3 linked regions of the Homo sapiens genome follow. Changing the gene in region 1 together with any one later gene gives a genetic interaction. Each region holds a gene or a part of one and is shown in the gene's direction. Other genes may lie near its edges.

Region 1 (3,652 bases):
AATGATTACAGTGCAGGATGATAAGTACTGTAATGGAGGTTTGTACAAAGCATTAGGGGAACACAGAAAAGGGCAGTGTGGATAGTGACACTAAGTGTGGCAGTGTGAATAGTATTAGGAAAGGATTCACAGAGAATTATTTAAATAAAGATTCCAAGAATTGTGAGAATTTAGGCAAATAAGGGATGCATTCAGGTGTCTTGTCTTACAGATATAATCTTCATCCTTACGTATCTCCAATTTCCAGGTTTTTTTCTTGCCTACAGCTTAATTTTTTCTCCTCCTCTCCCTGTCCCCCAGGCCATGATGGTGGTATGATTGTGTTTAAGCTGGAACGGGAACGGCCAGCCTATGCTGTTCATGGCAATATGCTACACTATGTCAAGGACCGATTCTTACGACAGCTGGATTTCAACAGCTCCAAAGATGTAGCTGTGATGCAGTTGCGGAGGTAAATCGGACTTGTTTCTTTCCTCCAAACCCTCTCATCTGTCACCCTGATACAACTCCCACAAACAAGACTCTTCTTTTCTTTCTTTCATTTATTTATTTTATTTATTTAATTTTTTTTTGAGACGGAGTCTCGCTTTGTCGCCCAGGCTGGAGTGCAGTGGCGCGATCTCGGCTCACTGCAAGCTCCGCCTCCCGGGTTCACACCATTCTCCTGCCTCAGCCTCCCAAGTACTGGGACTACAGGCGCCCGCCACCACGCCTGGCTAATTTTTTGTATTTTTTAGTAGAGACGGTTTCACCATGTTAGCCAGGATGGTCTCAATCTCCTGACCTCATGATCTGCCTGGCTTGGCCTCCCAAAGTGCTGGGATTACAGGCGTGAGCCACCGCGCCCAGCCTATTTATTTATTTTTAAATTTTTTTTTTTTGAGATGGAGTCTCACTCTGTCACCCAGGCTGGAGCGCAGTGATGCAACCTCAGCTCACTGCAACCTCCACCTCCTGGGTTCAAGCAATTCTCCTGCCTCAGTCTCCCAAGTAGCTGGGATTACAGGTGTGCACCACCACACCTGGCTAATTTTGTATTTTGAGTAGAGACGGGGTTTCGCTGTGTTGGTCAGGCTGGCCTCGAACTCCTGACCTTGTGATCCGCCCACCTCGGCCTCCCAAAGTTCTGGGATTGCAGGCGTGAGCCACCGCACCCAACCAAGACTCTTCTTTTAAATGACATTTTGGATCTCGTATTCTGTCACAGATGGAATCCCCATTAGATGAGCCCGCTCAGTTTAAACCCAATGAGTGAGGGAGGCAAGGAAGTGGTCATGAGTAGAATGATAGTTCCCTTCTTGAGAATGCTAGTGACCTTGTGGATGGAAAATCATTCTGCCACAATTTGCTGGGTCTCTTGCAAGCCAGAGGAAGTTTCTTGATAGAGAATGGCCCAAACTGGTAACAGAACTTTTCGCCTTTGTTTGGCATTTCTTTTCTTTAACTCTCCCTTGCCTTCCAGCAAAAAGTGCACAACTCTGAACCAGAATATATGTCCCTGGAAACTCTTAATTCTGAAGATACAATAACCTCTGGGATGCCTGGCAAAAGGACCTGTCCTTTTGAAAAGCCAGCTGCATCAGCATGCTGAAACATTCATGGTGGCAAAATTTGGAATGAGGTTTTGATAACCACCCTTTAGCATCATTACAATAAAAAAATGGGTTTATGTGAATACTCCAAGGGACAGGAGAAACCAGCCAGAGACAAATCACATTATGTTACTCTGTGGTGTCCACTGCAATTACGTGTAGGAATTTGTATCCAAGCAGAACCAGTCCCACTCACTACAGTGAGTGTTAACCCTACCTACCTTCTGTTGAATAATTTGACTTCTACTATGGCTTACTTTTTAAAACTGTTTGTTCAAAGCTGAGCTAGGGAAGTTGCCAAGCCTTAAAGGAAGAGAATACAATATTTATTCATTTTATTCCTGATTATAAAAGTGATGAGTATATAGTGTAAAGATTGGATAAGTAGGAGGTGTGGGGGTGATTCCTTTCTTCCTTCTATTCTTATGCCTCTTCCCTGTTTTCTCCTTTTTCTATATATATCTCTAGTGGTTCCAAGTTTCCAGTATTCAATATGTCATACAATCCAGCAGAAAATGCAGTCCTGCTTTGTACAGTAAGTAACCTGTGGAGCCCTCCTAGGTTCTCCTCATTTTCCATAGGTCTCTTTCTTATGCCCTTAGGGAATCTTTAATGGCTTCTTAGAAACTATTTAATGGTCATTTTGTGAGAGCTGACACAGTGATCACTCAGAGACTCAAATCAGGTAGGTTTCAGTTGTCGTAAACATATTGAGCATTTGTGAACTGCCTATCTTTCCTAAAGCTGAACTTAATGGAGCATCAGAATGAATGACCCAGATCACTAGAAATAATTTGAGAGAATGTTTAGACTATATATATATATTTCCTATGGAAAGAAAATGTTTACCTTGATCCCTTCCTTTGGGTGAAAATAGAAGAACTATTATTTTGAGAGGAAGTTCATATCAGTGGGGTTGGCTTCAGAGTCATCAATGACTCCTCTCTGTTTCTTGCAACAGAATTTGCAAAAAAAAAAAAAAAAGAAATGACATTCTAATTTTAGTGCCCTCGTGGCCAAGTTAAAAGGAATGAAGTTAAATGTCTTTCCTCATATAACTATATTGTCTAATCTGTTCTTCTTTAATATCTAGTAGTCCCATACTCTGAGTTTTCTTGAGTGTTTTTTCTTTTCTTCTTTTTCCAATAAACATTTGCATTCCTATAGTGTCTTTTCTTTGATGTCTTTTTTTTTTCCTTTCCAGAGGTTGAGTACTCAGTTGATGAGTCCTCAGGGTGGGGTACCAGAATATCAGGGTCCTAGTCTGTTAATTTGTGGAGTAGAGAGCATTTCTTACTTTCATTCAGATAATATCTGCATCTTTGGAGGATAAAGAAAATAAAGTGACATCAGTGCTGATGTGTTTGGCAAAGAGCCCTATAACTCATAGATGTAGAAACAGTCAAATGCCCTCTGGGTGAAGGGTAAGAAAAGTATGGTTTCAGATTGGTGTCTGTGCAATGGAACTGTTTTCTCTGTCAGAGTAAATTGGAAAACTGGTATCTTGGGTGCTTCTCACTAACATTTTAATTTCCCCTTTTCTTCTACAGAGAGCTAGCAATCTAGAGAATAGTACCTATGACCTGTACACCATCCCTAAAGATGCTGACTCCCAGAATCCTGATGGTAAGTGTTCTTTTTGTCTACCCCACTCTGCTTCCAGCTCTCCTCACCCGCATCATAACTCCTCTTCAAGTTTTTCACATTCCATCCCCAAGCCATGGCCACATCACTCATGTCTGTTGGCAGGTGCTGCTGACAATTGCATCAGAGGCGACCATGGTGTGAAATATTCATGTTCCTCCTCCATTTTATTACCCCAGCTAGATATATATATTTTATAATTTGGTTATTAGAAACTCTCCATTCTCTCTTTCAGCACAGCATGTTATCCTAGTTTATTGTCAGTTGATATGACTTTCACCCTGGTAGTTTCATTTATTTAAAAATGTGGTTCCAATCTTATAATGCCTCATCCTGGGACTAGGGATTTATACTGTCCTATCCACATCCAGATCCGATTTGCTTCCTTTTGCATGTCAAAAAGATGAGGCTGCTAA
Region 2 (3,652 bases), on another chromosome or scaffold:
CCCATATCACAAGCTACAAGCAGGTGGGGAGGCTAGAGGCACACTTACTGAACTGGGAACAGTGACCCCGTGACTGAGGCCCAAAGATGGAATTGCTAGTGGGAGGTGTGACTGGAGCAGGAAGATGACAGAACTGTCTGGGGTGGAGGGGTGGGGTGGGCTGATGGCTGGACAGCGTCCATGATTGTTCTCTCACTTCCCTCTCTGTCCAGAACCCCGAGCAGTCTGCGGATGAAGATGCTGAGAAAAATGAGGAGGATTCAGAAGGTGAGCCAAAGAACCTTTGTTGCAAATAGGAAGTCCAGAGTTAGTGTTGCCCTTCGCCTGGTTTCTTGGCTGCCCTCCAGTCTGGCTTTTCAACATTCAGGATCTTTTTCTCCCTCCATTACCACTAGGCTCTTCAGATGAGGATGAGGATGAGGACGGAGTCAGTGCTGCAACTTTCTTGAAGAAGAAATCAGAAGCTCCTTCTGGGGAGAGTCGCAAGTTCCTCAAAAAGATGGATGTAAGAGCCAGGGTTAGATGGATGATTTCCTGCCAGAGGTAGTTCCTGAGTCCCTGGGGGAAAAAGACAAGACTCAAACCCCTAGGGTTGGGAGGGGTGGAATTTAGTGGAGTTGAGAACAAGCTTCCTCTTACATCAGAGCAGTGGGCAAACAGGGATCTGGGCCCAGCTCTGCCAGGGGAAGCTGTGTGTGTTCCTGCGGCCAAATTGCAGCATCACTCTGGGACTTGATGGTGAGTCCCAGCCCTTGGTATCTTGATTCCATGAGTAGCTGCTCTTGTTCTACTCATGTAAATAAATCTCGAACATGCGTTAGTAAGGAGGAGACACCAGTCAATCTCCCTGTCTTCTTGCTGATCCTCTTTTCTTCCCTCTAAGGATGAAGATGAGGACTCAGAAGATTCCGAAGATGATGAAGACTGGGACACAGGTTCCACATCTTCCGATTCCGACTCAGAGGAGGAAGAAGGGAAACAAACCGCGCTGGCCTCAAGATTTCTTAAAAAGTAAGGAAAGTAGTGGGACCTAGGGTTACACTGGAACTGGTGGAAAGCTCTTAATTGTCTGGAAGGTTATTGATTCTTCCATGGAGTCCTTTTAGGTTGGAGCAGCCAACTGTTAGCATTTTACAGTAGGATCAGAGAGTCAAGTACATTAGTTGGCTAAAGTCACGAAGCTAATGTGTCCTAAAGATGAGAATTGAAGGCTCCAGAGTCCAAATATTTACCCACAGCCTTACTCACTGCGTGTGGATTGGGTGCAAATCTCACTTTGGCACCCGATACCTGTGTGACATTGGACAAACTACTTAGCCTGTCTAATCTTCAGTTTTCTCATCTGTAAAATAAGGCAGGGAACCCTCCCTTCCAGAATAGCTGCAGGAATACAGGGAGGTGTGATGTAAGAAAGTAGTTCATCTAGGACTGACGTGTGGTGAGCCCTCAGTGTGCGTTGCTACTGTGTTACCCTTCCTGATAACTTCTTAGTACACATACAGCATACAGACTGCCGCAAGTGTTCATGACCTTTACTGGGACAGTCAGAATAGGGGAGGATCCCAGTGTGGATTCTGTCTCCCAGCCTTTATCAGCTGTACAACATTGTATAAGTTACTTGACCTTAAGTCTTAGTTTCTCCCTTTGAAGTAAAAGTGATACCTGCTCTTTTGTATCCCATGGGAGTGAAATCTCAAGCTCACTAAAAATAGTGCTTTTATTTATTTTTTCTTAGCCAGTTTGCACAAACTACAGATAAAAAGTGCTTTTTTTGAGACAGGGTCTCACTCTTCCCAGGCTGGAGTGTAGTGATGCAATCTTGGCTCACTGCAACCACAACCTCTTGGGCTCAGGTGATCTTCCCACCTCAGGCTCCTGGGTAGCTGGGACTACAGGTACACTCCAGTACATCCGGCTAATTCTTGTGTTTTTAATACAGACAAGATTTCACCATGTTACCCATGCTGATCTTGAACTCCTGGGCTTAAGCGATCCTCCCGCCTCAGCCTCCCAAAGTGCTGGGGTTATAGGCGTGAGCCACTGCACCCAGACAAATAGTACCCTTTTAATGGGAAGATTATTGCTCTCAAGGTTGCTTTCCTGTGTTTAAAAGTTGTGGTCGTGCTGCTTTAGGGAGGTAGTGAGTTTCCAGCCCTCTAGAGGTCTAGAGAGGCTGAACAACTTACTTGGTGGGCATTTTGTTGAGAAGGCCTTTTTTGTCCAGTGCTTCAGGGAACACTGGTCAAGGTCTGGGCCACATTGTCTATCACACCCCTTCTTGGAGGGTTTACAACCACCTCTGGAAAGTTCCATGAGAATAAATATACCTAACTTTGTTTTATTAACCATCTCAAAAACTTGCTTGATCATGAAACTCGTTTTTTTAACCTGTTGACATCTTACAGAACTATCAGCGTTACTATTGGTTCAGGTCTTTTATATCTACTGTACTTTGTGTTTTTGTCTTTGAATAATTGTGTATTGAAGTCTCCCATTGTGTGGACTCCGGTGTGTGATGTGCACTGCACATGTGTGTTACACAAAGGCTCCTGTCTGAGGGAGCAAATGGGGCCTAAAATTAAACTTAAGACATCAAGGCTGGGCACGGTGGCTTACGCCTGTAATCCCAGCACTTTGGGAGGCCGAGGCGGGCAGATCACGAAGTCAGGAGATCGAGACCATCCTGGCTAACACAGTGAAACCCAGTCTCTACTAAAAATACAAAAAATTAGCCAGACATGGTGGCAGGCGCCTGTAGTCCCAGCTACTCGGAAAGCTGAGGCAGGAGAATCGCTTGAACTGGGAGGCAGAGGTTGCAGTGAGCCGAGATCGTGCCACTGCACTCCAGTCTGGGCGACAGAGCAAGACTCTGTCTCAGAAAACGAAACAAAACAAAAAAAACTCTAAGACTATAAAGCTATACTTTTATAAATACAGACTCAAAAGTTCTTAACAACATAGTAGAAAACCAAACACAGCAACATACAATAAGGATTATATGGGAGCACCCCCTCCTTGCCTGTAGGGGGATGGAGGATGGGTGGGCTCATCTCCCAAAAAAGTTTTAAAAAAAAATTTAATAACAAGGAGGATTTATCCCAATAATAGAAGGATGTTTTAATATGAAAATCAACTAATATACTATATCAATAGAATAACAGACAAAAGCCGTAGAGTCATCTCAGCAGATGCAAAAAAAAGCATTTGAAAAAAATCCTAATATTCTTTCATGATAAAAGACTGAAGCTAGGAATAGAAGGGAGCTTCCCTCTACCTGATAAAGGATGTTTATGAAAAGGACGTTTCCTGTCCTTTTATTTTTAACTCTGCCATGCTGTATGATTAAGAGTGTTTCTTGGCTGGGCGTGGTGGCTCACGCCTGTAATCCCAGCACTTTGGGAGGCGGAGGCAGGCAAATCACAAGGTCAGGAGTTCGAGACCAGCCTGGCCAACATGGCGAAACCCCATCTCTACTAAAAATACAAAAAAATTAGCCCGGTGTGGTGGCCTGCGCCTGTAGTCCCAGCTACTCATGAGGCTAAGGCAGGAGAATTGCTTGAACCCGGGAGGCGGAGGTTGCAGTGTGCCGAGATCGCGCCATTGCACTTCAGCTTTGGGCAACAGAGCAAGACTCCGTCTCAGGAAAAAAAAA
Region 3 (3,652 bases), on another chromosome or scaffold:
TTGAAGATTCATCTGTGTATTTTTGGAGGCATGAGAGCTTGTTCATTTCTGTTTATCACAAAATCATATTCCATTATTTCATTATATGGAAGTACCTCAGTTTATTCGTCTACTGAAGGGTATCTTGGCTGCTTCTGGTTTTTGGCAGTTATCATGTTTTGGCTGTCAACATTTGCATGCAGGTTTTTGCGAAACAAGTCTTCAAATTAGTTGGGCACATATATAGGAGTGCTATTGCCAGCTCATACGGTAAGACTATATTTTGCTTTGTGAGGAACTGTCAGTCTTCCAAAGTGATTTTTACATTATATTTTACATTGCATTACAAATGTAGGAAATCACCTTACTAAAGGGCATGAGGGTAAAGTGTTGATCCAAGCAGCTTTGGAGATGAGTGGAGTCTATAAGACAAAGGCCAAAGGAAGTGCACATAAGCACTCTAATTGATAAAGTTGGTTTCCGTGGGGCAGCTGGTTAACAATTCTGATACCATTATACAACGGTAATGTGGTATCGGAACCAATGAATTGAGGTCCTCTTGCTTCTCATAGTTGCCAACATTTGATGTCAGTGTTTTGGATTTTTGTTTGTTTGTTTTGAGACAAGGTCTCACTGTCGCCCAGACTGGAGTGCAATGGCATGATCACCCACCTCAAACTCCCTGGCTCAAGCAATCCTCCCATCTCAGCCTCCCAAGTAGCTAGGACTACAGGCATGTGCTCTCGTGCCTGGCTAATTTTTGTATTTTTTTGTAGAGACAAGGTTTTGCCTTGTTGCCCAGGTCGGTTTCGAAATCCTGGTCTCAAGTAATTCATGCCTCCCAAAATATTGGGATTACAGGAGTGAGCCACTATACCTGGCCTCTTGTTTTGCATTTTAGTTATTCTAATCGGCATGTGGTGGTATCTCATTGTTTTGATTTCTAGTTTCCTAATGACATTTGATGTTGAACGTCTCTTTTTTTTTTTGAGACGGAGTCTCGCTCTGTCACCAGGCTAGAGTGTAGTGGTGCGATTTTGGCTCACTGCAACCTCCGCCTCTTGGGTTCAAGCGATTCTCCTGCCTCAGACTCCTGAGTAGCTGGGACTACAGGCACGTGCCACCATGCCCAGCTAATTTTTGTACTTTTAGTAGAGATGGGGTTTCGCCATGTTGGCCAGGATGGTCTTGATCTCTTGACCTTGTGATCCACCTGCCTCGGCCTCCCAAAGTGCTGGGATTATAGGCGTGAGCCACTGCGCCCGGCCTTGAACATCTTTTTATGTGTTTATTTGCCATCTGTGTATCGTCTTTGAGGCACCTGTTGAAATCTTTTGCTCTTTTTTTTTTTGAGTTTTGAGTTTTAAGAGTTCTTTGTATATTTTGGATGCAGGTCATCTGTCACACATGTTTTGCAAATATTTTCTCCCAATCCGTGCCTTGTATTTTTGTTCTCTTATCTGTGTCTTTCACAAGGCTGTTTTTTATTTATTTTTTTGAGAAAGGGTTTCACTCTGTCAGCCAGGCTGGGGTGCAGTGGTGCGATCTCTGCTCACTGCAGCCTCTGCCTGTTGAGCTCAAGTGATCCTCCTGAGTAGGTGAGACTACAGGTGGGTACCACCACGCCCAGCTAATTTTTGTATTTTTTGTATAGACACGGTCTCATCATGTTGCCCAGGTTGTTTTTTTTGAGGCATTCTTGCTTTGTCACCCAGGCTGGAGGGCAGTGACGTGATCTTGGTTCTCAGCTCACTGCAACTTCTACCTCCTGTGTTCAAGCAGTTCTCCTGCCTCAGCCTCCTGAGTAGCTGGGATTACAGGCATGAGCCACCACGCCCAGCTAATTTTTGTATTTTTAGTAGAGACAGGGTTTCATCATGTTGGCCAGTCTGGTCTTGAACTCCTGACCTCAGGTGATTTGCCCACCTCGGCCTCCCAGAGTGTTGGGATTGCAGGCATGAGCCACTGTACCCGGCCTCCCAGGCTGTATTTTTAATAAAAGTCCAAATGTGTCAGTTTTTTCTTTCATGATTGTGCTTTTTTGCTTCTCCTTTTTTATGTGATTAAAATTACTTGTTTTAAGAAGTTGAAGAGTCTTAGTTTGGGCCGTTTCTTATTGGATTGGCAGCTTGATAAAGCATGTTGAATGGTGGTTACTTTGATTTTTTTCTGTTTCTTGGTGGAGATCTCCGGGTAGTGTGGACATTAGTTCTCTTTTTGGCATTGATGTAAATGGCATTTAAATTCAAGTAATTTTACTTTCAGTATCTGATGAAATCATGCTACTATGGACAAATGGCTCTTTGGTCTTGTCTCTGCAACAATGACATGCTGTTTTAAAGACTTAATCTTAAATGTTTGTGCTTCTCCTAAGTAGAAATAGATCTCTAATTTGCTTTTTTAAATATTAGCTAAACAAATCAGCTTCTTATTTAATTGGCAATTAATATTTCTTTGAGTTCATCTTTTGGGCCAACTTTCTCTTACAGATCAATAAGTAAATCTATGCTCATTAATGGTAGTGACTCTACCTCAGGTACTCACATTTTACCCTTGGTTTTTTTCCTGGTAATCTTGCTTATGGTGGGTTGTAGTTTGTTGTTTCAGGTCAGTTAATCTTTTTCTTCAGTTTCTGATATTGATATCCTACTTTAAAAGATTCACCTTATACCAACACTACAAAATTACACATTATACTACTTCTCTGTTTTCTCTCCTTACACCCAAGGCTTCAATCTAGATGGAGTTTTGGTGTAAGCAGATAGCTGTTTGAAAGAAAATGAAAGATCATTTCTGTCTAGATTCCTTAGCAGTTAGAATGAATACACATGTACCTGTTTTCCTTTTCAGATGAATTCAAATAAAACTAATTGTAGTGACATGTCAGTGACCTATCCATATCTGCAATCTAACAACATGTGAGGTGTGGAGGAAGTGGCAGTGCCAGAGGGCTATCATGAAACTAATAGCTTCTTGTCTGGAAGTGATTTGAGGAGTGAAATCCATTGCCCTCTCAAACTTTAATGTGTGCAATTAAAGCATCAGCAACTCAAAGTTGGTGGTCAGAAGAGCAGCTTTCTTTGTATTTGCCTTCAGTTTATTGTGGTCTGAATTTTGATCTCCGGTTTTGGGCTGAAAGAATGAAAAGTGTTTATTCTGACAGTGACATTTGGTTTTTACTCATCTGTTTAGTAAACCTTTTTGATGTAAAATAATGTTCAATCCTGTCTAGAAATTGCTGTAGAAAGCAAACTCTTCTCAAACTTTAGGCAGAGCTAAATATATTTTTTCAATATTCAAACAGTTATCTGTATGTTAAAATAAATTCTGGGCCAGGCATGGTAGCTCACGCTTGTAATCTCAGCACTTGGAGAGGCCAAGGTGGGAGGATCACTTGAGGTCAGGAATTAGCGACCAGCGTAGGCAACATGGGGAGACTGTCTCTACAAAAAAAAAAAAAAAAAAAAGAAAGATTAAAAATTAGCTGGGCATGGTGGCACACACCTGTAGTCCCAGCTACTCGGAAGGAGGCTGAGGTGGGAGGATTGCTTACGGCCAGGAGTTCAAGGCTGCAGTGAGGTATGATCATGCCATAGCAATCCAGGCTGGGTGACAGAGTGAGACCCTGTCTCTTAAAAATAAATAAGTAAATACATACATACTGGACTTGTTT

The links.
Region 2: changes in COPA (region 1) and EIF3C together harm fitness less than expected from each alone (positive genetic interaction), as found in Homo sapiens cells (one large-scale study listed by BioGRID).
Region 3: changes in COPA (region 1) and AURKA together harm fitness less than expected from each alone (positive genetic interaction), as found in Homo sapiens cells (one large-scale study listed by BioGRID).

The regions. Positions count from the first base shown.
Region 1 is NC_000001.11:160,308,667-160,312,318, reverse strand, and holds part of COPA (coatomer subunit alpha), read left to right. Parts: intron 1-300; coding exon 301-451; intron 452-2,060; coding exon 2,061-2,127; intron 2,128-3,142; coding exon 3,143-3,218; intron 3,219-3,652. UniProt on the Homo sapiens protein: The coatomer is a cytosolic protein complex that binds to dilysine motifs and reversibly associates with Golgi non-clathrin-coated vesicles, which further mediate biosynthetic protein transport from the ER, via the Golgi up to the trans Golgi network.
Region 2 is NC_000016.10:28,714,424-28,718,075, forward strand, and holds part of EIF3C (eukaryotic translation initiation factor 3 subunit C), read left to right. Parts: coding exon 1-23; intron 24-212; coding exon 213-267; intron 268-395; coding exon 396-505; intron 506-883; coding exon 884-1,011; intron 1,012-3,652. UniProt on the Homo sapiens protein: Component of the eukaryotic translation initiation factor 3 (eIF-3) complex, which is required for several steps in the initiation of protein synthesis.
Region 3 is NC_000020.11:56,375,102-56,378,753, reverse strand, and holds part of AURKA (aurora kinase A), read left to right. Parts: intron 1-3,652. UniProt on the Homo sapiens protein: Mitotic serine/threonine kinase that contributes to the regulation of cell cycle progression.